Linked DNA regions of Homo sapiens. The protein of the gene in region 1 interacts with the protein of each later gene in a biochemical or structural test. Each region holds a gene or a part of one and is shown in the gene's direction. Other genes may lie near its edges.

Evidence for each region.
Region 2: the proteins of SP3 (region 1) and GABPA form a complex in vitro, tested with the Homo sapiens proteins (one study listed by BioGRID and IntAct).
Region 3: the proteins of SP3 (region 1) and HLTF form a complex in vitro, tested with the Homo sapiens proteins (one study listed by BioGRID).
Region 4: the proteins of SP3 (region 1) and VEGFA form a complex in vitro, tested with the Homo sapiens proteins (one study listed by BioGRID).

The regions. Positions count from the first base shown.
Region 1 is NC_000002.12:173,948,059-173,956,335, reverse strand, and holds part of SP3 (transcription factor Sp3), read left to right. Parts: intron 1-103; coding exon 104-1,463; intron 1,464-8,277. UniProt on the Homo sapiens protein: Transcriptional factor that can act as an activator or repressor depending on isoform and/or post-translational modifications. Binds to GT and GC boxes promoter elements. Competes with SP1 for the GC-box promoters.
Region 2 is NC_000021.9:25,765,449-25,773,714, forward strand, and holds the end of GABPA (GA-binding protein alpha chain), read left to right. Parts: intron 1-3,555; coding exon 3,556-3,784; 3' UTR 3,785-7,012; downstream 7,013-8,266.
Region 3 is NC_000003.12:149,029,316-149,035,499, reverse strand, and holds the end of HLTF (helicase-like transcription factor), read left to right. Parts: intron 1-501; coding exon 502-582; intron 583-3,127; coding exon 3,128-3,280; 3' UTR 3,281-5,373; downstream 5,374-6,184. UniProt on the Homo sapiens protein: Has both helicase and E3 ubiquitin ligase activities. Possesses intrinsic ATP-dependent nucleosome-remodeling activity; This activity may be required for transcriptional activation or repression of specific target promoters.
Region 4 is NC_000006.12:43,779,864-43,787,917, forward strand, and holds the end of VEGFA (vascular endothelial growth factor A, long form), read left to right. Parts: intron 1-868; coding exon 869-940; coding exon of another isoform or gene 941-991; intron 992-2,092; coding exon 2,093-2,224; intron 2,225-4,677; coding exon 4,678-4,699; coding exon of another isoform or gene 4,700-4,765; 3' UTR 4,766-6,624; downstream 6,625-8,054.

The DNA.
Region 1 (8,277 bases):
AGTTGAATTTTCAGGTAGTAGGATTTATACCAGTTTTTAGAATTTTTTGAGGGTTGATTTAAATATACCACAAATATATCACCTTTTTGTTTTCTTCATCCAGACAGGTGATTTGGCTTCTGCACAGTTAGGAGGAGCACCAAACCGATGGGAGGTTTTGTCAGCCACACCTACAACTATAAAAGATGAAGCTGGTAATCTAGTCCAGATTCCAAGTGCTGCTACTTCAAGTGGGCAGTATGTTCTTCCCCTTCAGAATTTGCAGAATCAACAAATATTTTCCGTTGCACCAGGATCAGATTCATCAAATGGTACAGTGTCCAGTGTTCAATATCAAGTGATACCACAGATCCAGTCAGCAGATGGTCAGCAGGTTCAAATTGGTTTCACAGGCTCTTCAGATAATGGGGGTATAAATCAAGAAAGCAGTCAAATTCAGATCATTCCTGGCTCTAATCAAACCTTACTTGCCTCTGGAACACCTTCTGCTAACATCCAGAATCTCATACCACAGACTGGTCAAGTCCAGGTTCAGGGAGTTGCAATTGGTGGTTCATCTTTTCCTGGTCAAACCCAAGTAGTTGCTAATGTGCCTCTTGGTCTGCCAGGAAATATTACGTTTGTACCAATCAATAGTGTCGATCTAGATTCTTTGGGACTCTCGGGCAGTTCTCAGACAATGACTGCAGGCATTAATGCCGACGGACATTTGATAAACACAGGACAAGCTATGGATAGTTCAGACAATTCAGAAAGGACTGGTGAGCGGGTTTCTCCTGATATTAATGAAACTAATACTGATACAGATTTATTTGTGCCAACATCCTCTTCATCACAGTTGCCTGTTACGATAGATAGTACAGGTATATTACAACAAAACACAAATAGCTTGACTACATCTAGTGGGCAGGTTCATTCTTCAGATCTTCAGGGAAATTATATCCAGTCGCCTGTTTCTGAAGAGACACAGGCACAGAATATTCAGGTTTCTACAGCACAGCCTGTTGTACAGCATCTACAACTTCAAGAGTCTCAGCAGCCAACCAGTCAAGCCCAAATTGTGCAAGGTATTACACCACAGACAATCCATGGTGTGCAAGCCAGTGGTCAAAATATATCACAACAGGCTTTGCAAAATCTTCAGTTGCAGCTGAATCCTGGAACCTTTTTAATTCAGGCACAGACAGTGACCCCTTCTGGACAGGTAACTTGGCAAACGTTTCAAGTACAAGGGGTCCAGAACTTGCAGAATTTGCAAATACAGAATACTGCTGCCCAACAAATAACTTTGACGCCTGTTCAAACCCTCACACTTGGTCAAGTTGCGGCAGGTGGAGCCTTCACTTCAACTCCAGTTAGTCTAAGCACTGGTCAGTTGCCAAATCTACAAACAGTTACAGTGAACTCTATAGATTCTGCTGGTATACAGCTACATCCAGGAGAGAATGCTGACAGTCCTGCAGGTGAGTCTTAAGTTATGTCATGCCATAAATAAGTTCAGTGATAATACATAGAGGGAAATTTTTTGCTTTAGGTATTTATCAGCATCAGACTCACATTAGAATTAATGATCAATGTTTGTATGAAAATATGTTTGTATGAAAGTAGACATCAAAGTATCTTCCAAATTATTCTTTGAAAGTTTGTAGTTTTTGAAGTTAGGGATTCATGTTTCTATTATGCCAATTAACATTTATAGTTTTTTCTTAATTTTATATTTGTTTTGACATCTGATTGATATTGTCAGGCATTATAAAATTTTTATTTGGCAGGTAGGGTGTCTTGGTTGGCCTTAGTGTGATGTGAATTAAAATTTTTATGCATTATATTTGGTTGAGGAGTCAGGTTGGTATAGTGAAAACATGGTACAGGGAGTAAATATGCCTCAGCCACTTGCTAGGTGTGTGATTTTGACCAAGTTATTTTTCTTTCGCAAACTCAGTTTCCTTGTTGTGTAAAATGGAGGTGTTGGACTAGGTAACTGTCTAGGTGACCTTCCAGACCAAAAATTCTTTGATTCTGTGATAGTGGGCATTAAACTTAGCTGTGCTAGAAATAGTTGTCAATAGTATGGGTAGACATTTCTGAAGTCTGCTCTTTGAATGTTGTGTAAGAATTAAATAATAAAGTTTAAAAAGAGATAGTGTCATTTTTACCCTATTAATGTTGTCTGTCTAGATAACATTTGATTGAATGTTTTGTTGTGCAGTAAATCCTGAACTTTATTACTTTAATTCTGTTTTGTATTTGGATTTCTGTGGAGATTGTACTACTAACATTCTTTCACCAGGTCAGTGATTCTAAACTCTTAAATTGGGACACTTTAACTGAACTGATTGACATAACTCCCATCACCATTTAAAGATTACCTTTTTTCTTTTGATAAATTTGTGATACATGCTTAGAAAATTGAAATGGTCTTAGAACCTCAGATCCGTATTTGGAAATCCTTTAATTGCATTTAAGCCTTCTGAAGCTGTGATTATTTTTTTTTAGGGGTTGGGATTAGGATTTCTGAAACTGGTTTAGAGCAGTAGTTGTTTTTTTTTTTGTTTTGTTTTGTTTTTTGAGATGGAGTCTCGCTCTGTCACACAGGCTGGAGTGCAGTGGTGTGATCTTGGTTCACTGCAACCTCTGCCTTCTGGGTTCAAGCAATTCTCGTGCCTCAGCCTCTCGAGTAACTGGGATTAGCTCCTGAATAACTGGGATTACAGGTGCACACCACCACATCCGGCTAATTTTTGTATTTTTAGTAAAGATGAGGTTTAGTAAAGATGTTGGCCAGGCTGGTCACAAACTCCTGACCTCAAGTGATCTGCCTGTCTTGGCCTCCCAAAGTGCTGGGATTACAGGTGTGGGCCTCCCAAAGTTCTGGGATTACAGGTGTGGGTCTCCCAAAGTGCTGGGATTACAGGCGTGAGCCACCGCTCTGCTCCTGGCCTAGAACAGTAGTTCTTAAAATGTGATCTGTGGACCATTGGATATCCCTGAGACCCTCTCAGAGGTCCTTCACATCAAGCTGCACTAAGAAATTGTTTGCCTTGTTCTCTGTGTTGACACTTTCAGTGGTGGTGGATAAAACTGCTTGTGTCTTAGCATAAATCAAGGCAGTGACAGCAAACTGTAATAGTTGTTGCTGTATTCTTCATGACCATGCACTTGCAGTTAAAGAAAAATCCCAGTTTCACTCAAGAATGACCTCGATGAACCAGTAAGAAAAGATATTTACTAAATCTTGACCCTTGAGGGCTGCATGTCTTTTAAAAAATAATAGCTTTATTGGGATATAACTCACATACCGTAAAACTCACTCTTTATACAATTCACTGGTTGTAACTATGGTCATAGAGTTGTACAACCATCATCACTATCTAATTTCAGAGCATTTTTATTACCTCAAAAGGAAACCCATACCCTTTAGCAGTCACTCATCATTCACTTCCCCTCAGACCCTGACAACCACTATGCTACTTTCTGTCCCTTCAGATTTGCCAGTTATTTCGTATCAGTGTAATTGTACAATATGTGGCCTTTGGTGTTTGGTTTCTTTCATTTAGCATGATGTTTTCAAGGTTCATCTGTGTCATGGTATGTGTCATTACCTCATTTCTTTATATATGGCTGAATACTGTTCCACTGTATGGATATACCACATTTTATTTATCTACTGGTGGACATTTAGGTTGTTTACACTTTTTGGCTATTATGAATATTGCTGCTGTGAACATTTGTGTAGGTAGTATTTTGTGTGGAAATGTTTTCTTTTGGGTATGTACCTGGGACTGGATTGCTGGGTTATATGGCAATTGGGTTTAACCGGTTTTCCAAAGAGACCATACCGTTTTACATTCTCATCAGCAATGTGTTGAGAGTCCCAATTTCTCTCTAGCGCCACCAACCTTATTATTGCCCATCTTTCTGATTACAGCCATCCTAGTGGGTGTGAAGTGGTATCTTTTTATGGTTTTGGTTTGTAGTTCCTACTGCATATCTTTGTAGTAGTATTTATGATGAAATGGGAAGTATGCCTTAATAAAGCATTTTTGCTGCATATCAAAATAAGAATTGTCTTTAAAAAACCACTTTTTTCCCTCAGTTATGCAGTTCTGTGAGTTGCAAGCTGAACTAGATGCTATTTTCATCAAATACTGTTTTTACTTGAAAGAATGATAAACTGTGGTCTTGAGATTAATGTACTTAAGTGACAGATATTTCCTCAAAAAAAAAAAAAAAATGAAGTGAGCCTGTCATGTGAAGGAAAAAAACTGGAAAGCATTTGCTGCTGCAGATGACAAAATTTGTGCTTTCCAGTGAAAATTAGAATTTTAGAAAACTCAAATCTATTATGAGCTTGATACCTTCTTAATATTTTTCTGATGAGATGGATAGTGATACTAACAAAGCTTTTTTGATACTGTATTTTAATGTAATGTGCTAACACTTGGAAGATCTGTATGATAGTTCAGTGAACCGGCAGTTTTCAGATGACCAACTCATTATATTATAAAATCATGCATGAGTAAAAGATCCATTCAAAGTGCGAGATAGACCAATAACAGTATAGAAAGTTTACAGGTAGTGTCAGATTCCACATTTGGACTGAACTTGAAGAAACTGCCACCTGTTAAGTTTGGTGTAGTATTCAAAGAAAACCCACAATTGGCTGAAAGGATATTAAGTTATTCTTGCCCTTTCCAGGTAGATATCCGTGAGTAGATACTCTTCATATGGTTCAGCCCGAACCATATTGCAAGAGATTGAATGCAGGAGCAGATCTGAGACTTTAAATGTCTTCTTTTATTCACTCTAGACATTACAGAGATTTGTGAAAATGTAAAACATGGTTTTCTCATTAAACTTTTTTTGTTGTTTTGAAAAATGTTTTTCATAAAATGTTAATTTATGTTAACGTGTAATGGATTTATTTTTAAATGAACTAAATTTAAATTTCTGTTTATGATATGGTAAGTATCAGTATACACATATACTACATGAACAGAAGTTTTTTGTGAACGTCAGTAATGTGTAAGTTTGGAAAGGAGTTCTGAGACTAAAAGGTTTGAGTTAAGTGACAGACTACTGAAGACATAAAAGATAGTTTTTAGAAACTAGTTTTTAATGTGTGTACAAAATTAATGTTACAGCGTTCTATAGGTGTTAGAAAATAAATCTAGAAACTTTGATTTTTGTGGATTTATGTTGGTCATGAAATGAAGTTGGTATAAAGCACCAAGTTCTTCAGTAAAGTAATTTCTTTTCAAATGTTATCAGAATAGAAACACTGTGTATATTGAATACAAAATGGAATTTTAGTTTATTGAATGTTGCCCAGGAAGGGTAAAATAAATACTCCAGAAAGCCATTAAATTTGAATTTTGTCCTGATTTTAAAGGAACGGGGAAATTATTTGAGAAAGTAAAAGTTAAAGCAAGTGAGAATAAAAATGCTGTATAAGACATAGCATATTTAGTAATAAATTCATTTTGAGGATATAAACTTTCTCTTGGTATACTATCTTTCTAATTGGCAAGAAGGGAGATATGTTAAGATGCTTTTTCTCACTAGAAAATCAGAGCAAAACATTTTTGTTTCAGTGTTACGTGTAGTATGCCCAGATGAAAATGCTGAAAACTTTGACATCCTTGGTTTGCCTTTTTTACTTTTTTTTTTTTTTTTTAAGAGACAGGGTCTCTGTTTTCTAGGCTGGAGTGCAGTGGCATGATTATAACGCATTGTGATCTCAAACTCCTGGCCTGAGCCTCCTGAATGTGTAGAACTACAGGCTAGCGCCACCATGCCCAGCTAAGTTTTAAATTTTTTGTAGAGATGGCATCTTGCTATGTTGCCCAAGTTGGTCTTGAACTGCTAGGCACAAGCAGTCCTTTTGCCTTGGCCTCCCAAAGTGTTGGAATTATAGGCATGGGCCACTGTGCCTAGCCTGCACTTTACTTTTGATAAGCATGACATTAATGTAACAATTTCCCAAAATAAAGGAGAAAGTACTTTTTTTTTTTTTAAACCAGGGCTCTGGAACTTGCCTTTTTGTTTGTTTTTGTTAAGTTTAAAGGACCCCTTTAACAAAAATGACCTCTACTCGAGCCTGTATTAAGCAGTAAGTCTGACTTTGTTCCCTTCTTTTTTGGGGTACTTTTACTACTCCTTATCCTTTAGAAGGCAAATCTCCATCTTCCTGGAAACATCAGGCGCCAAGCTGAAACCCTACTAATCTTACATATTTCTGTCCATTTGTGGCCCACTGAGAAATGCATGCTGTTTTAGGAAACTTCATTGTTGTCTCATTTTTACTTTATCGTTGCTGTATATTTGAAACTGGGTAAGAGGAGGCAAAGTGTGAATTTATGTATCTTTCCAATGTCAAAATTTCCCCCAAATTTAAGCCAAGACTTAATTCAGTCTCTCAAATTTTAGTCCTCTGTCAGATTTTGTTTTATCTAAAATACAGTTAATCTTTCAAGACTGGGCACATTTAAAATGGAGTCAGGTGTTTGAAGTTGGAAGAAGAGTTTATAGAAGTCATTTCTTCTTAAAAGCAAACAACTTAATGTTTAGAATTCCCCATTATTCATGAAAAACTGGATAGTTGCAGGTTAACTGGTAGCTATCTTTTTTTGAGAAAATAGAAGCCTTATAAAAGGCAGGCTTTTTTAACTTAATATTTAAGTATTTAAAGATTGACAGGCGAAAGAGGGATGGATCTCTTATGGGCTCCTACTCTATCGGGTACTGTTTAGGTGTTTTTAGGTGTATTATCTCATATAATTCTTTCTTACATTAATCTATTTACTATTCTCACGGTTGGATAGGAAAGTAACTGGCCCAAGGCTTCACAACTAGGCTTTGTTCTTTTCACTCTCCTATAGTGTCTTGGCAGTGTGCTCTTTAATTTATATCAGTATTGTATTTTTCTTCCCTTTTTTTGGTTATTTTTATTTCAGATTTTTTTTTTTTCCTTTTTGAGGGTAAAATACTAGCCTTGAATAAAGTATTTTCTACATGGTAAGTGGAGGAAATGTCTTCTGAAACATTTTTATTTGTGATTCTAACAAGGTGAAAGATAAATCCTTACTGATTTTACCTAAGGGATCACTGTCAGAACTGGTTGATTATAGAAATGCACAAATACTGCTAAAAGGCCAACCCTATTGCTTGAAAAGTAGAGTGTATGATGGAAATGTGGTCTTTTTAGAGTTACAAAAAGAATAGACAAAATGTGATGACTATGATCTGTGCTGATTTTAAGTAATTGGTAGATCTCCTTTTGCCCCTCTTACACAACATAAAAGGTTGTTGTGTAAGACTTTTACACTGTTGCTTTCTGTAGACTTTAAAGTTGTCTTATCAAAAATAACCTGAGGATGGTTTATTTAGGTATCATACCACTTAGCTTGGTTATGTCTGAGTTCCTGTTCATTTGTGAATCATGTATGTATTGCATGCTATGGTCTTTAAATTTTAGAAATTAAGATTTTTATTTTAATGCTTGGGGAAAACCTATTCATATTCTGATTTTCCAACGATTTTTTTGGTTTATTAATTTTGAGACTTATAATTATTTATTTTCTGTACTTAAAGTTGATTTGCTTACAAAAGTAATACATGGCTTGATATGGAAAACAAAAACATTATGGAAATATTTAATGTAGAAAGTGAAATTTTCTCTTATCTCTTAGGAATAAGACTTAGTGTCATATATTTTAAAATATTGTCATAATTATACTGCATATACACTTTTTACAATATTGCTTAATTTTTAGTTTTAGGAGGATGAAAATAGAATAGTCGCCCCCCTTATCAGTGAGGGATAGTTCAAAGACCCCCAGTGGATCCTGAAACCTCAGGGAGTACCAAACCCTATATACACTATGGTTTTTACTATATGGTAATGAGTGGGTAGCATGTATAGTGGATAGGCTGGACAAAGGAATGATTCATGTCCCAGGTGGGATGGAATGAGACAGCATGAGATTTCTTAGTGCAAAGAATGGCATGTAATTTAAAACTTGCGAAGTCTTTATTTCTGGAATTTTTAATTTCATGTTTTCAGACTGTGATTGACTATGGGTAACAAACCATTGTGGAAAGCAAAACCTTGGATAAGGGTATAAGGACTTCCTATACTTGCTAAGTATTTAGGTCAAGAATTACATCCTATTTAATTAGCTATTAATATAGATAAAAGTACCCTACATGCAGAAAAACCCAGAGTTAGATTCATTGCTGAAAACAAGAGCCTGGAGTAGGGCTCTTTTTTGTTAA
Region 2 (8,266 bases), on another chromosome or scaffold:
GAAAGATTATAATTTAGCTCACACACACACACTCTCCCTTCCCCTTTCCATCCCTTCATCTCAGTATCCCAATATAATTATATGGAAATTTTGGTTCAGCGAGTATTCATTGTTACAGTATTACGGCCATGTAACTATTATTACATAGTTGGCTGTGATTATTTTTCTTTTCCTGAATGACCCTTTTTTTCTCAGAGTTCATGAGTAACTAAAATGTTTAGTTTTCAAAATGCTTATCCTTTACCATTCAGTCTCAAACACATTGCCAACTGTCTAAAGATTCTTCGTTTATAATCATAATTAAAGCTGCCATTTTTGAGAGTTGATACAGATTGTATACATACAAGTCCCCTCAAAATTACAGGTAAATTGTTAGAGTTAATAATTAAGATGTCAGTTCCCCCCCAGATTGATCTAAGTTTCAGTGCAGCAACTTAGTTTAATTTGAAAAATCAAACTAAGTTTTTCATAGAACTTGAGAAGATAATTGTAAAATTTACATGGGACTATAAAGTACCATGGTAGTCAGGACACCTGAAGATTAGCAAAGTGGAAAGACTTGTCCCACAGGATATTGAGACTGACTCTAAAGTTACAGTAATAAGACAGTTATGCTATTTTCTCAAGACAAATAGGCCATACAGTAGAATAGGGAGCCAAAATAGAACCAGGAATATGTAAGCATTTGATTTAAAGAAATGGCAGTGGGGAGAAAACATATGAGGAAACGACCTGCTTTTCAATAATCAGTGCTGGGATAATTTACTCTCCATCTCTGGGGAAAAGTAAAAGTTGACCTCTTGCTTATGCCGTACCAAAAATCAATTCCATGTAGCTTGTAGCTCTACATGTAAAAAGTAAAATAGAAAAGGATCTAGAAATACTTTCATAACTTCTGGTGGTAGGGAGACATTTAAACAGAATCAAAAGGACTAATTCTAAAGGGAAAGATCAATAAACTGGACTATATTTAAATTAGGAATTTCTGTTCGTTGAAAGCCTTATTAAGAGAGCCACACATGTCGGACAGAAGTATCTAGAATATCTAACCAATTCTTACAAATCAATTTTTTAATGGGCAAGAGACTTGAATAGACACCTCAGGCTAGAGATTATCCAAATGGCCAATGAATATATGCAAAGGTGTACGGCCTCATTAGTATTCAGAGTAATGCAATTGAAAACCATAATTAAATGGTACAACTCACCCCCTAGAGTGGCTACAATTTAAAAGATTGCCAGAACTAAGCTCTGTTGAGGATATGGAGCAATGGGAATGCTTCTACCCTTTTGATAGGAATGTAAATTGTAACAGTTGCTCCCCTAAGCAACTGTTTCATACACATCAAACAGAGATGTACTTCTATGCCCATACACATGTTCATAGCAGATTATTTATAACATCCAAACCCCAGAAACAACCAGATATCTATCAACAGTAGAGTGAATGAATCATTTATGGTATATTCATACAAGAATACCTTGCATTCTTGAAAACTAAGCTCCTGCTACAAACAATGACCAGTGAACCTCACAAACATAATGTTCAGTGACAGAATCCAGACCCAAAAGACCAAATTCTGTATGATTACATTTATTTAGTAAAGTTCAAAAAACAGGAAAATTAAATTTCAGTATTTAGGGATGCATGTTTGGGTGATAAAAATATAAAGAAAAAGCAGTCAAATTACTATCATGATACAGGCTTGTGTTTACCTTTTAGAGCCAGGATTTGGGGAGTGATTGGGAGGGGACATAAAGGGGATTCTAGATGCTGGCAGTGTTCTGTTTCTTGACCTGAGTGATACTTAACAGGTGAGTGAATGTTCACTTTGTAATAAATCACTGAACTGTTCACTTCTGTGTCCTTTTGTTTGTGTGATATATTTGCAATTAAAAAGTTTAAAAAAATACAAGTTTAAAAAAAAAGAGGGAAGAAAAGAAATCATATCCATGAAATACAGGTATTGTGTATCTTTCATTTTAGGGAGGCAACAAGTGGAATAAATGCTACTATATACAGTTGTGTGATGCATCTACTAGATCAAAAGAAGTATTCAGTAAAATTCAAATTTATGTGTGTATATTCTTTTTTATCACCTCTTACCAAGAAATATGATTATGCCAACTCCATTTTCCTCCTAGAATTATAAAACCTCTTTCCTTTTCCATTTTCCTTTTTTTCCCCACGTATAGTCTTACATATTAATGTAGAAATTTTTTAAAGCAATTGATATGCCTATAGCATTTTTAACTGGATGGCAAGGAATTGTTGGTTTATGAGCTGAAATCCAAATTCTGTACTAATGTAATTGACATAAATGGAAACTACAAGACTGCCCAATGTGTTATATCTCTTACTGGGAAATCAAACATAACTATTTTTCTTTTGCTATTCTGGAATTAGGGAAAGATGACAATTTCCTGTATATAGGTCAGTCCTTTCATTAATAGACTCTTGATTAAGCCAAGTGACTTTTATCCTGCTAAATGTGATAGTTTATATCTGGTACTTTTGCAAATAGTTGTTTCTTTTATAATAGCCCTTTGTCAGTGGGCAGTGCAATTTTAAAATAAGGGCTTTGCAATCTGCCAGTCGTGGAAAGAGCTTGACTTGCCTCTTTTTCCTGTTGTTGGAATTAGCAATACATAGTGTGTGTTTAAATAAAGTCTGTTTTCCAAAGGAAACATAAATCCAGCTCCATTTGCATCTCTATAGAATGCAGCAGTAAACTAGATTTCTAGAATGATTGCCGGAACTCTGCTTGTGTACGTTTAGAAACATTGTCTCTTTGCAATGTCCTTTACCTGTTTTTCTGTATCCTCTGTTTCTTTTAGACCTTTTCCTTAGACTTAAAGCTCCCTATTGGGCTTGGATAATTTATCTGAAATTTGGAAAGCGTTTACATAGTGAAATAATAAAGATGAAGACATGACTTCATCATATAGGATTCTTTACAAGACAGAAAAGAAGTGGAATATATGTATTAATTTTTTTTATATTATCGATTTTTATTAACATAGCTTATATTTTGTAGAGGGCTGTGTGCCAGTCATTGTATACTAAGCACTTTACAAAGATTATCCCTTTAATCCTCAACAATGATATGAGGGTATAAGCACTGTTAACCTCACTTTATAGATGAGGAATAAAAGCTTTGAGAAAATATGACTCCTGTGGTCTCAAAAATGTTAGGTTTTGAATCTTGGCTTTCTGACTCCAAAGCTCTTGTTCTTAGGCTCTTCTACTGCTCTCAAGGTTTTTTGTTTTGTTTAATAATTATTTTTAAATCAATGTTTTATTCTAATTGTTGAAAATATGTTTTGAAAGTTTAATGTATAGAGTTTTGGAGTAGTGAGCATTGAAATTTTAGTAAATAATGTTGGGATGTTTCATTTGATAGTAGCATTAAATATTCTACATAGCTTCAATATTAATTGCTATTGTGGCGGATGCAGTACTCTACTAGGCTTCTGCTTATGGAATAGTCTGTAAATTATTGTAAGAAGTCTCATTTTTTCTGAAGTCTCTAATTTTTTTTTCTCTTTTTGAAGATATTATTACGATGGGGACATGATTTGTAAAGTTCAAGGCAAGAGATTTGTGTACAAGTTTGTCTGTGACTTGAAGACTCTTATTGGATACAGTGCAGCGGAGTTGAACCGTTTGGTCACAGAATGTGAACAGAAGAAACTTGCAAAGATGCAGCTCCATGGAATTGCCCAGCCAGTCACAGCAGTAGCTCTGGCTACTGCTTCTCTGCAAACGGAAAAGGATAATTGAGCCCCAGGACATTCTGAGACTCCAAAGTCTTTCTTAAAATGTTTAGAGCAAGTATAGCTCTTACCTTTATTACTGAATTTGAATCTTCTTTTATTTCTAGGCTGTACAGTCTGATGCATGATTTTTTTATAAATATTTCATACTCTTGTGAATTTGGATCTTTTTACTTTGAGCATATATTTTAGAATATGTGTATGTTAAAGGATCTCCACAATGTCTGCAGTGTGAAGGCAGGTTCATTGTGGAATAGTTTAACAGTCAGGAAGGCTAAACTGGTCAGTATTAATGTGTAGCCCTACCAAAAATAGCCAGTAGTATCTGAAAATGAAAAATAAATGAAGTATCTCTAGGAAACAGTCTGGCTTAACTATTTTTGAAAATATAACTGTTTCCCCTCTCTGCTGCTTTAGATGTTGCTTTACATAGAACCAGAAAATGGAATTTCTCAGCTAAAGCATGTGTGCCTGTTTCATCTAATCAAGCAGAGCTAAAATGTTCATACCGAATAAATTTATATTAATAAATTACTAAACTAAGAGTATCAGGTTATTTATATATTTGCAAGCAAAGGACAGTAAGAAGTTGACTGGCAAAAGAGCAGTGCTGAAGGAGGAGATCCAGGTTTAAATCTGGCTTATTAACTCAAGCCAATTTTAAGGATTTTCTGTATAGATTACTCATGTCAGACCAAGAATTTAAATTATTTTGAGAGAGGCATTTAATTCTAATAAACCAGCTGTTATAAAAATTATAAAATGATCTCTGTTTTTCCTGTCAGAGATTTAAAAAACTGAAAAGGTATACCTCAACCCAAAAATAAAGGTTTGTTTTGGTTTGTTATGGCTTCCTTTTTTAAAAAATTACCCTGTAGTGCCAGTTTATTATGCAAAGCAGCTTATATTCCTTTGTTTCTGATAAAATGAAGACTTTAAATCAGTCAGTAGTACTTTACCTTTCAAGGCATTAGTAAATTACTTGCAAATAGTTTTAAAAGGAAAATACGACCTTTGTTATAGGCAGTCTTCTCTTTAAGACAATACTTTTCCACTTGTTTTCCTTTTCCATATTATATATGTGTATTCATATAGCTGTATACATATTCAGTTGATCATTTTATAAACATATGAAGGCATAAAGATATACAGAAGAAAAATTATTAAACAACTCATTTTAAGATTCAAATTAACTAATTCCTGCATATATGACATTCCTTACATAAGCGAACACTAAACAAAAATGGCTAGAAATGTCTTTTTCTTTCTTTTCTCTCTTTGTTGTTTAAGGTATTAAGCACGAATTATTACATGAGACTGGCAGATAGCTATTAATCCTCTTACAGATTTGAGAAAGTTGATTCTCAAATATTTATGCACCTTCTCCTTCATTGTTTTCTTTAAATCTGTCCTCTTAAAAAGCTTCTTAAGAGCTCAGTTAATGCTTTTGACTTAACTAGGAGAAAAAGGCATGATAATACAGGCAAGATGGCATTGTTAGCAATTCTGGTAGTGGTTTGGAATGAATCCTAAGAGGCAGGGATCTTAAGGACAAGGAAGAGAAGAGAGAGAGGGAGGGATCTTTGATCTCTTTCTCTGGTAATCTTAATGCATAATTTTACTAAAACATGTTCTCAATTCATTCATATTATTAAGCTCTTCCTGCAGTTGATATCTGAGCAGAGTAAGATTTGTATTTCCATTTTTACTTTTTTGAAAGAGAATATATGGACAGATTATTAGTACAATTTGGGCACTGTGGTTTTAAGAATATCTGAGTAAAATAACAATATGAAATAATAAACAGAAGCTCTAACGTCAGGTAACAAATAGACAGCAAGAAAGGTTTTGCACCATCCTCTTACGGCCTAGAGAGTTGACAAGTTGCTTGTAGTTTTAAAAAAATAATAAAGTATACCCTTCTGGTATATCATCAAGAGCTTAAGAATCTTGGCTTTCATATTTAAAATGCTTTTGGGGAGACATATATTAAAATTTTAGCCAAGATGATAGACATGTCTCAATTATATATGTGTGTGTATGTTTTTAAAGCTAAAAACATTACTTTTAGATCCCTAGAATGAAAATTTTTTTCTCATCTATGCAATTCCCATATGGTTTTTTTTTAAATCATATTTTATTCATTTTCTCCCTTTAGCAATTTTCATTTTATTTCTCATAATTTGAACAGAGACAGTTCTCATACATGATCAGATGCTTTTTTTTTCTTCTTACCATCATTTATGCATGACATAGGTAATGTGACTAATTTCTCCAGTTGATTCAAGAAACTCATTACTTTGCCTCAAATTATATGTAAAATATTTGTTTTACTTAGGTTACAGTTATCAGAAAGGTAGTTTTTTTCTTCTATTAAAATATAACATTGTGAAAGAAAATAAAATTTATGCTATTCTTTGCTTTGTTTTTATAAATGAATTTTTCATAGAATTTACAGTATATTCAAAGGAAGAAAGATAAAATTATTGGTCATCATTTGTACCTTAGAAGTACAAGAATTTAAGTAAAAGAAATGTTCATTTTTGTTTTAAAATTTGTTTTCCATGTGAAGTTTTTATTGAGCCAACTTTCATACATATCTTGCTAGCCTAAAGTCTAAATATTTGTGTTGGCATCAGAAAAACAAATGAGGCAGAATTGCTATGTGTGGTTGATCTTCAGATAAATTGACTGATCACAGTTATTTTTGTATCAGTCTATGTTATTAGGAAAAATTGTTTAGTTGTTTTCTCCCCTGATTAATGGTGATATTCAAGTATGATACAAAAAGAATTGTACCACCAAATATTTTTGTGAGGTCTGCTGTTTTCCATATTCATTTTATGCTACTGCCTTTAAGAAAGAACTAGTGTATCCTTGAAATAGCACAAAAATGTTTTAAAATTCATAATTGCAAAACAAATCTGTGACTAACTTAATGTCTTCAGATCTAAAGGGTGTAAAAATATTGATACTTCAATATTTCACTTGCTGCCAGGAAAAACAAAATTCTCAATCTTTTGTAAATGGGAGGAGGACTTTTGCATACATTTTTACTCTTTAAATAACGACAACGACACTTATACTGTCATAATAACAATTATGTATTTCTTTGTGGTTTTAATTTTTTTTGTAATTTTACATAAAACAGTTATTTTCTATTTTTACGCAGATAAATATTTGTGCATAAAATGTAAAAATAGTAAAATGAGAAAAATAAAACTATTATACAGTATGTTTCTGTGTTGCTTAAAAGTTTTTTTTCCTGAAAACAAAATCTTAAATCCCCAGGATATTTTGTTGGATAGTAATCTGACAGTCCACTTATGATACGTTGTACATAGGATTCCGATGCATTTTTAAACTTAAAAGCTGTCAATTTGGGAAGAACATATTTCACTGAACTAAAATTAGTAGGTTCATCTCTTTGAGGAAATTAATGAAATTCCATCTACAAAGCCAAGTTGTTTTAGAATAGTAACAGATGAAGCTGTCAGAAGGCAAGCTGATGATTGCTAAATTGTAAACCTTTCATAAAGCCTTTTTTTTTAACAAACAAAAAATCACCTGTTCATGTTGGCTATCAGCAGGTTGCTTCAGCCAGAATCAGAATATAGAAGAATGGAAAGGGTTAGGAAAAAGTGATTCATGCCTGCCTTCATGGTGAAGCAATGATGAAAGTTTGATTGACATGCTTAAATAGGAAGTTATGGTTAGAAATAAATGGCTTTAAAAATACACAGTGTGATTGTATCTAGTTCGAAGCAATCAAAAACCATCAGCCAGGACGCTAGTGAGGTATGTTTGTTCTCCCAGGACTTCAGTTTTTTGTGTGTACAGCTTCAGAGTTTAATTTACAAGCCAAGTATGTGTTTAAAATGCTTTTTACTGATAAACTGACAACTTTAGAACACTGCTTTTAAAAATTTCCGTAGTGAAGGACCACTTTCTTATTTCCAATTTGTCACAGACAAACATCTGTAAAATAAAAACTGAATTAGTACAGGGAGGGGGAAATGGGAAGTTACTGTTTAATGGGCATAGAGTTTCAGTTTTGCAAGATGAAAAACAAGATGGTTACACAACTATAAACATGCTTAACAATACCAAACCGTATTAAAGATGGTTAAGATGGTAAATTTCATATTATGTATATTTTACCACAGTTGAGTTTTTTTTTTAAAGAATGAATTACTATAAGAATTTTAAAAATTCAGTATTTACCAAATTAACAATACAATGGGGGAGGAACACATTCAACTCAATAGATGCAGAAAAATGTACAACTTGACATCCATTCATGATTAAAACTCTCAGCAAACTAGAGAACTTCTTTAACCTGATAAAAAGGTATCTGTGGAAAAACCTACAACTAACATCACGTTTGTTGCCCCTCACCACTCCGCCCCCCTCCCCACAAGATTTGGGAAACGCAAAGAGGTACCTGCTTTTATAATTTTTATTCAGAATTGTATCCTAGTCTGTGAAA
Region 3 (6,184 bases), on another chromosome or scaffold:
TTTTTAGTAGAGACGGGGTTTCACTGTGTTAGCCAGGAGAAACCCTTTTTTTATACTTTTATTTCATGAACAGAGGAAAGTGAAAGAAAACCAGAAAAGGGGGAGAAAACTAAATAGGCCCAAGAATTGTGTCTTTTCTCATATAAATTAAGTCATTTAAGAGGATGTATAACCTTTTTCTGCTGTTAAGCACACATAGATTCTTTTAAAAATGAAAAAAAAAACCAAATTGATTAATCAACAAATACTTATTTTGGGTGCTGATACATATGTCGGGGCCTGTATTAGGTATTAGAAGTAGTAGTAGGGGGAGGATGCCTATCATCATAGTGATTGGGAGGGTGGATTTTTCCCCAGAGTATTTGTGATGTTAGTATCTGACTTCAGGCAGAAAACTTTCAGTCAGAAAAAGATGAATGAATACTAGTGAAATGAAAGGACAAATGCAAAACACTGAAAGATCAGGGCAGTAGTAAAGTAACTCATCCATGTTCTTGTTAGGCCTGGAATCCTGCTGCTGAAGATCAGTGCTTTGACAGATGCCATAGACTTGGTCAGAAGCAAGAAGTTATCATCACAAAAGTGAGTTTTTAAACAAACTATTTTAAGACTAGGTTGATACGATTTTTACAATTAAGCAAGTAATGCATGAATATATTATTATGATTGAGTGTAATTATGCAGAGCAAAATATAAGTCACCTTTTTCCTCCTTCATCAATAATTTAATATATGCTGTTTAAGGGGCCTTTCTCTGCACCTACATTTATAGTTATGTGTACATCTCCTTAAAAACATTCTTTTAAAGATAAATGGAATTATACTTTATTCTACAACATATTTGTTTCCCTTAAAACTATACATTGGAGACTACCTCATAAGTACATTTAGATGAACACTTTTTTTAAATAGTGGTAAAATACAAAATTTACCATTTTGAAGTATACAGTTTAGATGCATTAAGTACATTCATGTTGTTGTGCAACAGCCATCACAATCATCCATCTCCAGAACTTTTTCATCATCTTAAACTGAAACTGTGTATCCATTAAATAATAACTTCCCATTCCTCTCCCCCCAGCCCCTGGCAACTACCATTCTACTTTCTTTCTCTGAATTTGACTACTCTACAAAACCATATAGATATATCGTAATATATTTAACCCATTAAGTTTTTTGCTAATAAAAACAGTGCCATAATGAGCATTATTATATATAAATCTTTTCACATAGATGCAAGTAATTCTTTGGGATAAGTTAAGAAAACTAGAATTCTGGATTTAGAATTTTTATCAACTATCGAGTTGGTTTCAAAATAGGATTTATATGAAAATTGTTAATTTATGCTTCTGTGGCCAAAAAAGTGCTGTTCTAATTTGCATTTACCTAAAACCTTGAGTATATTTCACATATCTTGTTTATTAACATTTTTTCTGTGAATTATTTATATCTTCTGTCCAGTTCTCATAGTTATGGTACAAATAGTTTTATAGTATAAAGGACTCCCTGATACAGTCTGACTTGAAATCTTTTGTTTATGTATGTTGAAAATGGTTTATCCCATACTCTTCCTTGTCTTTAAACTGCATTTTTTTGGTCATGAAAAAGCTTTAAAATTTTTATGATTTAAAACGTCAGCCTTTTTTATACGTTCTAGGTTTTAAGGTCTTACCTAGGACAGAAGGCTTTATTTTCACATTTTTTCAACTATTCTGTATTTACTTCTGGTTCTTTTGGAAGATTTTATTTTTTGTTTTATGATTTGTGACATGAGTCTAAGCTTATTATTTTATCAGATGAAGAACGATTTGTTCTGTCACATCATTTTTTTTCTTTGAAAATTCCAACTTTTTCCCTACTAGTATGAAATGTCACTTTCATCATAAACTAATTTATATATATTACTTGGGTCTTTTTCTAGACTATTCTGTTCCATTGATCTCTTTTCCTTTTCTTAGGGCAGTATTACTCTTATAACAACTATGGTTTCCTAAAGTAAGTTTTGATACCTGATAGGGTAAAATGTTCTGATGACCCTTTTTGAAAATTGTATTGGTGGTTATTATTATTGCTCTTGAATTGAACTTTAGATTTTAGTTATAAAATCCCATTTAAGATATCTTGAGATTTATTGAATTTATTATTACTTTCGAGAACTATCTTTCTTTATAAGTAACGAATGTTTCCATACAGGAACATAGTATCCTTTCTCCATTTATGTAGATCTTATATGTATTTCAGTAAAATTTTATTATATAGCTTTAGTTATTGCAGTAATTGGGTCTTCTTAAACAATGTTAAATAGTAGCAGATAGTGACCATTCTTGACTTGTTTCTGTTTTGTTGTAGAATACTTTTATTGTTTCACATTAAATATGTAAGGTTGAGACATTCATTCCTAGTTGGGGTATTTTAAAATCAAGTTTTTATCAGGAATGAGATGATCACGTTTTATTTTTCTCTTTGTTAGTGTTGTGAATTATACTAAAGATTCATTCTTGAATTTCTGGGAATAGTTTTTTGTTTTTTTTTTTTTTTTTTTTGAGACGTCGCTCTGTCACCCAGGCTGGAGTGCAGTGGCGCAATGTCGGCTTACTGCAAGCTCCGCCTCCCGGGTTCACACCATTCTCCTGCCTCAGCCTCCCGAGTAGCTGGGACTACAGGCGCCCACCACCATGCCCGGCTAACTTTTTCTATTTTTTAGTAGAGATGGCATTTCACCGTGTTAGCCAGGATGGTCTCGATCTCCTGACCTCATGATCTGCCCGCCTCGGCCTCCCAAAGTGCTGGGATTACAGGTGTGAGCCACCGTGCCCGGCCAGAATGGCCTTTTTAATACAATGCTGAAGTCATTTTGCCAGAGTTGCCTATATAGTTTGCTTTTTTTTTCTTTATTGCTTTGCTTATCTTGTGATCTGTAACTTCTATTCGTACAGCCATATTCTTTATATAAGAAAACCATATTGGGTAAGGAAAGCAAAGTTCAGTTCTATTAAATAGTTATTATAGTTTGGTGCAAAAGTAATTGCGGTTTTTGCCATTAGGCAAATCTTTCATTTAGTTTTTTTAATAAAGATTTTAAATACTATGCCTTAAAAACTACTTAACTTTTTTTTTTCTTTTTAAAGTTCATTGTAAAGGACTCTGTTGAAGAAAATATGCTGAAAATACAAAACAAAAAGAGAGAACTTGCAGCAGGAGCCTTTGGAACTAAAAAACCAAATGCTGACGAAATGAAACAAGCCAAAATTAATGAAATCAGAACATTAATTGACTTATAATTTGTGGGATTTTAGTAAGGTCAGTTTGATTGGATACTTAAGTTTTAGAAATGAGAAAAATACAGAGTTTTAGAAATGAGATCTAGAGAACACGTCTTCTAAAAGGGGCATATTTTATATTAGTGAAGAGGTATTACTGACACAATTTCTTCTATATATGAACCTATTTTTAATGAAACTTCAAATAGCAATAAGTTCCGTTATATACTGTGGCCTGAAATAATTTGAGAAAAAAGGTTACTTTGTTATTCAGCTTTTCATAATATCTATGCTGAGTATTTTCACGTATCTTCCAAGTACTCAGCTTTTTCGTATTTCAAATAAGGTCAGACCTTTTATACTTTTGACCAAATAGTTATTTTCTATGTTGGACACTTAGTTATTTACCAAAGCCTCCGATTTGTGATGCAGTGTTTGTAGTCCTTGTAAACAATATATACAGACTATACAAGAATTAATTTTATTGGGCTTTCAAAAACCATATTTGCATTCCAGAACCAAATCTTAAATGAGACCAAAGTCCAGGTTAGCACAGGTTTTTATTTTTCCTACAGCTACATTGAGATATAGTTCACATAAATGACTTGGAGTTTTATGTTCATGAAAAAATTAGGGATTATGTTAAGAGTACTATTTTTTCCATTTTAGTTAAGTAGTACTACACTCATTGTTTAAATGTAACTTGCTGTGTCTGAGGTATAAATATAGTCTGTGGGAGTGAGAGGCAAACCAGTCCTACCCAATTTGATTTGAATATTTTAAATTATGGAACTGCTAAATAGATATTTCTATAAATAGATAATTTTTATTTATGTAGCTTTTTTTGGAAGTAACTTTATAAATTTTTATAATTCAGAAGACTACTATATGTGAGAGGCGTGATATCTGGATGGAAGTTGGGCTGGATGATCTCCAAAGTCGTTTCAACTCTTAAAGACATCTTAATCCTGAATGTAAACAATTGTTATGTGTTTAGAATCAGAATTTGATTTTGAACTTGAGTAATTCATCCTTACAGCTATCTGTAGAATTAGTCATCTTTTTTCTTTTCTTTTTTTTTTACTTTTTTGTTAATAAGCAAACTTATTTGCTGCAGAATTTGGGTTGACTCCTGAGCATATTTAAAACAAAGAAGCTAGAAATTTAGCAGTCAGATTAGGTAGGTGGTTTTATTTCAAAGGGAAACTTTAATCCAAAGAAAGATTAATTACTCTAACAAACAAGAGAAGCTTCATGTTTGATGATACAGATTTAAGAATACCTGAGACTTAAGAGTGTTGGAAGTCATTTGATAGAAAGATGAGATCGGAGACAATGTTGTGTTATAGGGCACACATTGAAGGTATATGCCAAATCTCTCACCAGATAAGTCCTTTTCTCCCTGTGCCGTTTTCTTGCTCAAAGGGAACAGTGAATTAGCCAGCTAGAATCTTCCTGGTCCCTTTTTGAGGCAGTAGCAGGTAAGGAAAGGGCTGATTTTCATCAAAACCAAGACCTTTCTGCAGGGATGATAGTGGAATAATAATGTGGGATTAGCCCGCTAGCATTAGGAGCAGTTGGGAAGTTACCTGGTAGATCAAGCATTACACACAAAAAATCAAGTTGATCAGAGTATGGGTTCTCCATATAGCAATACTTCAGTGAGATTAAGTATAAACAGTTTTTGGCAAAAAACAACACAGTCTACTCTTTCTGCTTACAAAGACAAAGCCTTACAAACTCACTATGAAGGTAAAGGGAGGACAGCTTGCTTCTTTGCCCAGACATTTACAAAGTTGTTTTTAAAACACACTCATAAGTAAGTTTGGCAAGTTGTTTAAAAAATGTCTCTTTGTTTTGTACAGTTCTGTTAGATGTTGTTATATTTTAAAAGTTTAATTTAAAAAATTTAATTTGTCCTTCCTAAGAAGGATAAATATATAAAAAAGCCACTGGAATGAAAACTTCCTATATGCTATGCTGTTGTCTTATTATTATATAGAAAAATAACTTTAGAAAAATATTGAAGACATTGTATTACCACTTGTGATTCAAACAATTTTGTGGTTAAAACTGGATTTTAAATTTAAAAATCAATAAAAATTTCAAATGTTTATTACCTTCCTCGGTGCCATAATTTTGACTTTATCTTCAAATAAAATCCTTCATTAATTGTGACATTTCTATGCAAGTGTTACATTTTTTTGAGAGTACATGAAGATTACTGTAACAGAATAATGTCCTCATATCCTAACTAACTTTATTTTGCTCAATTTAGCTGGTTGAAATTCTTGTTCAGAAATCAAGAGTGCTTATTTAAAATGCCTTGATCTAAAAACATTGGTCCCAATTAATTTCTTCATCTGGAAGAAAAAAAGGAGTTGTGATAATACCTATATATACACAGATAGCACTCTTAATCAATCATTGTACATTTTGTCCTTAAAATTACAGCTCTAGAATTGGAAATACAAACTAACCCTATGTAGTTTGTTACCAGTGAGTACTAATGATCTTCGGCAGTGTGTGCTTTGTTTTGGGGAATGGCAAAGACATTGCTGTATTTTTTTCTTGTTTTATTTATACTACTTGTCAAGGTTTATGCATTAGCATTTGGATGAGATTCATTAAAAATATAAGGGCACATTTGATGTTTGGCTCTTAACAAAAACTCAAATGTTTAACCTCAAGTTTTTAACACATTAACTTCAAAATATCTGCAAAATGTGTTATACAGCAGGACAATATGGGTATAAGGAGAATTAAGGTAAACAAACATTTACTTTATGCATAAACCATAGCTCCATCCACCATGGAGCTAATCTCCAAAGGCATGGATTTGACCTCTGTTGTGGGCAAGTTTGTCTTACAACCAAAGGTCATACCAGCCACTGCAAGGGGATAAGTATATATGGATCACCTCTG
Region 4 (8,054 bases), on another chromosome or scaffold:
TCTCTTGAAGGGGACAGGCTACAGCCTGCCCCCCTTCCTGTTTCCCCAAATGACTGCTCTGCCATGGGGAGAGTAGGGGGCTCGCCTGGGCTCGGAAGAGTGTCTGGTGAGATGGTGTAGCAGGCTTTGACAGGCTGGGGAGAGAACTCCCTGCCAAGTACCGCCCAAGCCTCTCCTCCCCAGACCTCCTTAACTCCCACCCCATCCTGCTGCCTGCCCAGGGCTCCAGGACACCCAGCCCTGCCTCCCAGTCCAGGTCGTGCTGAGCAGGCTGGTGTTGCTCTTGGTTCCGTGCCAGCTCCCAAGGTAGCCGCTTCCCCCACACCGGGATTCCCAGAGGTTCTGTCGCAGTTGCAAATGAAGGCACAAGGCCTGATACACAGCCCTCCCTCCCACTCCTGCTCCCCATCCAGGCAGGTCTCTGACCTTCTCCCCAAAGTCTGGCCTACCTTTTATCACCCCCGGACCTTCAGGGTCAGACTTGGACAGGGCTGCTGGGCAAAGAGCCTTCCCTCAGGCTTTGCCCCCTGCCGGGGACTGGGAGCCACTGTGAGTGTGGAGACCTTTGGGTCCTGTGCCCTCCACCCAGTCTCGGCTTCCCACCAAAGCCTTGTCAGGGGCTGGGTTTGCCATCCCATGGTGGGCAGCGTGAGGAGAAGAAAGAGCCATCGAGTGCTTGCTGCCCAGACACGCCTGTGTGCGCCCGCGCATGCCTCCCCAGAGACCACCTGCCTCCTGACACTTCCTCCGGGAAGCGGCCCTGTGTGGCTTTGCTTTGGTCGTTCCCCCATCCCTGCCCACCTTACCACTTCTTTTACTCCCCCCACCGCCCCCGCTCTCTCTCTGTCTCTGTTTTTTTATTTTCCAGAAAATCAGTTCGAGGAAAGGGAAAGGGGCAAAAACGAAAGCGCAAGAAATCCCGGTATAAGTCCTGGAGCGTGTACGTTGGTGCCCGCTGCTGTCTAATGCCCTGGAGCCTCCCTGGCCCCCAGTACAACCTCCGCCTGCCATTCCCTGTAACCCTGCCTCCCTCCCCTGGTCCTTCCCTGGCTCTCATCCTCCTGGCCCGTGTCTCTCTCTCACTCTCTCACTCCACTAATTGGCACCAACGGGTAGATTTGGTGGTGGCATTGCTGGTCCAGGGTTGGGGTGAATGGGGGTGCCGACTTGGCCTGGAGGATTAAGGGAGGGGACCCTGGCTTGGCTGGGCACCGATTTTCTCTCACCCACTGGGCACTGGTGGCGGGCCCATGTTGGCACAGGTGCCTGCTCACCCAACTGGTTTCCATTGCTCTAGGCTTCTGCACTCGTCTGGAAGCTGAGGGTGGTGGGGAGGGCAGACATGGCCCAAGAAGGGCTGTGAATGACTGGAGGCAGCTTGCTGAATGACTCCTTGGCTGAAGGAGGAGCTTGGGTGGGATCAGACACCATGTGGCGGCCTCCCTTCATCTGGTGGAAGTGCCCTGGCTCCTCACGGAGGTGGGGCCTCTGGAGGGGAGCCCCCTATTCCGGCCCAACCCATGGCACCCACAGAGGCCTCCTTGCAGGGCAGCCTCTTCCTCTGGGTCGGAGGCTGTGGTGGGCCCTGCCCTGGGCCCTCTGGCCACCAGCGGCCTGGCCTGGGGACACCGCCTCCGGGCTTAGCCTCCCATCACACCCTACTTTAGCCCACCTTGGTGGAAGGGCCTGGACATGAGCCTTGCACGGGGAGAAGGTGGCCCCTGATTGCCATCCCCAGCAGGTGAAGAGTCAAGGCGTGCTCCGATGGGGGCAACAGCAGTTGGGTCCCTGTGGCCTGAGACTCACCCTTGTCTCCCAGAGACACAGCATTGCCCCTTATGGCAGCCTCTCCCTGCACTCTCTGCCCGTCTGTGCCCGCCTCTTCCTGCGGCAGGTGTCCTAGCCAGTGCTGCCTCTTTCCGCCGCTCTCTCTGTCTTTTGCTGTAGCGCTCGGATCCTTCCAGGGCCTGGGGGCTGACCGGCTGGGTGGGGGTGCAGCTGCGGACATGTTAGGGGGTGTTGCATGGTGATTTTTTTTCTCTCTCTCTGCTGATGCTCTAGCTTAGATGTCTTTCCTTTTGCCTTTTTGCAGTCCCTGTGGGCCTTGCTCAGAGCGGAGAAAGCATTTGTTTGTACAAGATCCGCAGACGTGTAAATGTTCCTGCAAAAACACAGACTCGCGTTGCAAGGCGAGGCAGCTTGAGTTAAACGAACGTACTTGCAGGTTGGTTCCCAGAGGGCAAGCAAGTCAGAGAGGGGCATCACACAGAGATGGGGAGAGAGAGAGAGAAAGAGAGTGAGCGAGCGAGCGAGCGGGAGAGCGCCTGAGAGGGGCCAGCTGCTTGCTCAGTTTCTAGCTGCCTGCCTGGTGACTGCTGCCTTCTCTGCTTTTAAGGCCCCTGTGGTGGGCTGCAGGCACTGGTCCAGCCTGGCGGGGCCTGTTCCGAGGTTGCCCTGGTTGCCTGAGTGGTAGGCTGGTGTGGCTTAGTGTAGTGGTGTGGACGCAAGCTGTGTGTTGTGTCCTGTGGTCCTTCTGCTCATAGTGGCTGTTGGTCCTGATGTTATTACTACCTCTGGTAGTAATGCTGAGAAGCTGAAAGCCGATTCCAGGTGTGGACAATGTCAACAAAGCACAGATGCTCTCGCTGGGGCCTTGCCTCGGCCCTTTGAAGTCTGCATGGCTGGGCTTCTCACTCACTCAGTGTTTCTTGCTGGGGGAAGGAATTGAGTCTCCCACTTCAGACTGGGCCTCCCTGAGGAAAGGGTTGTGTCTCCCCACTCAGACTGAGGTTCCCTGAGGGTAGGGCTGTGTCTCTCCCCTCCGACCTGGGCTCCCTGATAGGGCTGTCTCCCCGCTCAGACTGAGGCTCCCTCAGGCCAGGGCTATGTCTCCCTCCTCAGACTGGGGCTCTGAGGGCAAGGGGTCTGGCTGTTCGTTTAGGATGGGGCACTTTTGCCTACACACTGAAGGAGCTGTAGCATCCAAGAATACTAGATACCTTTAATCCTCCACCAGTCATGGTGACAACCCCAAGCAGCCCACACATTTTCAAGTGCCCCCAGGATGCGTGGAGGGAGGGGTCTGTGCCCATTCTCCTGACATTAGCCTGTGAGCTCCGTAAGCCCGGGCCTCGTTTACGTACCTTTGTGAGCCCCGGGCATCTGTACCTCTTTCCTTTGCCCATACTGGGGACCAAGGAAGTGTCAAGTGCATGAGTGAATGTGTGACTCAGTTCAGAGGGTGAGGTCAGGAGCACAGGGTCGGGACAGGTGGCTGGCATCTTTTAATGCCTTAGCTTATGTTCTTTATACCAACTTGGCCTGTGCTCAGAGTGAGGGAGGCCCTGGGGGTCAGGGTAAGCGTCAGTCAGGGAGGCAAGACTTTGTGGGGATTTCCTAGACAGGGCCAAGGCACCCCCAGCTCACCCCGAGGCTGTGTTAGGGAAGTCCTTGGAGTGTCTCCCCTCCCCCAGCAATGTTCTTGTGGCTTGTGTGTGCTCAGGGGATGCTGGGAACCAGGCCTGGGTAGTTGGTGTGGGGTGCTGTCTGTCTTGGCCCTATGTGAAACCAAGAGGGCGTATATTAGTGCTGGGGTGGGGGCTCTGCCTAACTTCAGGGCTGGATGAGGGGAGTCTCAGTTCCCCAGGGGTCCTTGGGAAAGATAAGGGACTTGACATTTTAGGGTTTTTAGGTGATTATTCTGCTGATGGGGGTTTGTGTGAAGTGACCTGGGAGCTAACTGAAGTTACTCTAACCTCCCAATACCTTTACCCAACCCCCAAGCTGGCTGTATCTGGGAATATCAGTTTCCAAAATTGGAGGCTTAGGACTCCGTTTCGGGGCTCCCCAGAAGGGTAGGGCCTGTTCTGCCTCCTTCTCACAATCACCCAGGGGCAGGGGCATGCTGAGAAAGTTCTTGGAGGCCCCCTTTGCTTCAGCTGGAGTAGTGAAGCCGCCGAATTGTCTCTCCCCATCCTAAGTGAAGCAGCATATTTGAAAGGAAAGACAACCTGTTACCTGGGCCTGCAACCTCCAGGCAGCTCAAGAGAGATGAGGCCTACAGCCACAGTGGGAGGGGACATGGGGAATGGAGATGGTCCCTCACCTTCCTGGGGCCTCCTGCTCTACGCTACCCCCTCGGGAGCCTCCTGTCCCCAGGGCAGGCCCTTGCCATTGTTGGTCACCCGGCCAAGCCTCTCTGCCTCAGGCGTTCTCCCAGAAGATCTGCCCACTCTCTTCCCCACACCAGCCCCTAGAGACTGAACTGAAAACCCTCCTCAGCAGGGAGCCTCTTCTGATTAACTTCATCCAGCTCTGGTCACCCATCAGCTCTTAAAATGTCAAGTGGGGACTGTTCTTTGGTATCCGTTCATTTGTTGCTTTGTAAAGTGTTCCCATGTCCTTGTCTTGTCTCAAGTAGATTGCAAGCTCAGGAGGGTAGACTGGGAGCCCCTGAGTGGAGCTGCTGCTCAGGCCGGGGCTCCCTGAGGGCAGGGCTGGGGCTGTTCTCATACTGGGGCTTTCTGCCCCAGGACCACACCTTCCTGTCCTCTCTGCTCTTATGGTGCCGGAGGCTGCAGTGACCCAGGGGCCCCCAGGAATGGGGAGGCCGCCTGCCTCATCGCCAGGCCTCCTCACTTGGCCCTAACCCCAGCCTTTGTTTTCCATTTCCCTCAGATGTGACAAGCCGAGGCGGTGAGCCGGGCAGGAGGAAGGAGCCTCCCTCAGGGTTTCGGGAACCAGATCTCTCACCAGGAAAGACTGATACAGAACGATCGATACAGAAACCACGCTGCCGCCACCACACCATCACCATCGACAGAACAGTCCTTAATCCAGAAACCTGAAATGAAGGAAGAGGAGACTCTGCGCAGAGCACTTTGGGTCCGGAGGGCGAGACTCCGGCGGAAGCATTCCCGGGCGGGTGACCCAGCACGGTCCCTCTTGGAATTGGATTCGCCATTTTATTTTTCTTGCTGCTAAATCACCGAGCCCGGAAGATTAGAGAGTTTTATTTCTGGGATTCCTGTAGACACACCCACCCACATACATACATTTATATATATATATATTATATATATATAAAAATAAATATCTCTATTTTATATATATAAAATATATATATTCTTTTTTTAAATTAACAGTGCTAATGTTATTGGTGTCTTCACTGGATGTATTTGACTGCTGTGGACTTGAGTTGGGAGGGGAATGTTCCCACTCAGATCCTGACAGGGAAGAGGAGGAGATGAGAGACTCTGGCATGATCTTTTTTTTGTCCCACTTGGTGGGGCCAGGGTCCTCTCCCCTGCCCAGGAATGTGCAAGGCCAGGGCATGGGGGCAAATATGACCCAGTTTTGGGAACACCGACAAACCCAGCCCTGGCGCTGAGCCTCTCTACCCCAGGTCAGACGGACAGAAAGACAGATCACAGGTACAGGGATGAGGACACCGGCTCTGACCAGGAGTTTGGGGAGCTTCAGGACATTGCTGTGCTTTGGGGATTCCCTCCACATGCTGCACGCGCATCTCGCCCCCAGGGGCACTGCCTGGAAGATTCAGGAGCCTGGGCGGCCTTCGCTTACTCTCACCTGCTTCTGAGTTGCCCAGGAGACCACTGGCAGATGTCCCGGCGAAGAGAAGAGACACATTGTTGGAAGAAGCAGCCCATGACAGCTCCCCTTCCTGGGACTCGCCCTCATCCTCTTCCTGCTCCCCTTCCTGGGGTGCAGCCTAAAAGGACCTATGTCCTCACACCATTGAAACCACTAGTTCTGTCCCCCCAGGAGACCTGGTTGTGTGTGTGTGAGTGGTTGACCTTCCTCCATCCCCTGGTCCTTCCCTTCCCTTCCCGAGGCACAGAGAGACAGGGCAGGATCCACGTGCCCATTGTGGAGGCAGAGAAAAGAGAAAGTGTTTTATATACGGTACTTATTTAATATCCCTTTTTAATTAGAAATTAAAACAGTTAATTTAATTAAAGAGTAGGGTTTTTTTTCAGTATTCTTGGTTAATATTTAATTTCAACTATTTATGAGATGTATCTTTTGCTCTCTCTTGCTCTCTTATTTGTACCGGTTTTTGTATATAAAATTCATGTTTCCAATCTCTCTCTCCCTGATCGGTGACAGTCACTAGCTTATCTTGAACAGATATTTAATTTTGCTAACACTCAGCTCTGCCCTCCCCGATCCCCTGGCTCCCCAGCACACATTCCTTTGAAATAAGGTTTCAATATACATCTACATACTATATATATATTTGGCAACTTGTATTTGTGTGTATATATATATATATATGTTTATGTATATATGTGATTCTGATAAAATAGACATTGCTATTCTGTTTTTTATATGTAAAAACAAAACAAGAAAAAATAGAGAATTCTACATACTAAATCTCTCTCCTTTTTTAATTTTAATATTTGTTATCATTTATTTATTGGTGCTACTGTTTATCCGTAATAATTGTGGGGAAAAGATATTAACATCACGTCTTTGTCTCTAGTGCAGTTTTTCGAGATATTCCGTAGTACATATTTATTTTTAAACAACGACAAAGAAATACAGATATATCTTAAAAAAAAAAAAGCATTTTGTATTAAAGAATTTAATTCTGATCTCAAAGCTCCTCTTGGTTTCTCCTTCTCCATTGAATCCTTGCTCTAGACTTCCTCCCGCCCCCTTTCCCTCTTCCTCTGGGGAACATGGCATTTGTCTTGGGTCTGGGAAAGGTACGTCTAATGTGTAGGATATGGGGTGACCCACCTTGTTGTGCTGGGGGCAAAGTCCTTCCATTTTGGCTGAGCTGGTCCTGGGGGAACCCATCCATCCTGTCTTGATATAGAAGGTGGGAAGCTCTGGGAATGGGTGGAGGGGGAGAAACAGCTTAGGAGCCAAGGGCCCTTGCAATTGGTAGTGCTGCCTTCAGGAATTAGATGATCCAGGCCCCTGTCCCTTAGCCAGGGAAAGAACTGGCCATGTCTCCAAGCTTGCTGCCCAGGAGACAGGAGAGAGCTGTTTTTGTCTGTGGGGGTCTTGTTGGCTGCAACAGGCTGGGAGTGGGAGGGGGATGCTGCTGGAGGGCTGTGACTCCAGGGTGTAACTTAATTTTACATAGTTTTACACCCTGGAGTTCCTTGAGCCTCTGGAAGATGGACCCATAGGTTTGGTCACCACTGATGGGACACTCCCTGCCCCAGCTTGCCATAAGCTCTTCTCTCACGTCCTGCTCCTGGGTAAGGTGGCACCTATCCAGGTCTTTGACACTGAAGGGCAGTGCTTCCAAATTCACTTCCTCTAGCCTCTCATTTATTCTTGCAAACCATAGATATGGCTTGAATAAATATTGAGCCAGTCATTGTGCTGCTATGAATAAGACACAATTCCACCCCTCAAGGATCTGGTGAGGATGGGTGGGTGGGGAGACCCAAAACTATAAATCCATGAGCAGAAAAATACATAAAATGTGCTGGGGGCATCTGATCTAGCTTGGGAGTGGGAGTTGTATTGGGGGTGGTGGCTGGGGGGTGGTGTCTTATGACATTATCTCTAGGCTGCCACTTAAAGTATGGTTTGAAGACAGGGAGAACGGGGCGGCGGAGTGAAAGGGTTGAGGACATCCCAGGCAGAAGGGATAGTGTGAGCAAGGCATGAAGGTGGCACTTGGGCAGGGGCAGGGAGTGGGTGGGCAGGGTGGAGGCTGGAGACACGGGCAAGGGTTAGCTCCAAGGGAGCCTGCAGCACCATGCCAAGAGCCTAGGGCCTGTCAGGGATGAGCAGCAGCCGAGGGGTTTTAAACACTGAGCGGCTCAGTCAGATAGACTTTTCCATAGGTGCCTGGCAACAGTATGGGAGGCAGAGAGGCCGGTAGAGGCTGTTGTGGTCTTCCAGGAGGAATTGTGCTGGTGGTGGGGAAGCACCTTTGGTGACTGGCAGTGCCGGCCATTGCAAGGTCTCAGCCTCAGGCAGCTTTTGGTCTAGTAAGTGCTCCTTTCCCAATCACTGACCACGTGCCGACCCCTACATTGGTTAACACTGAATCTGCACAGCAGCCC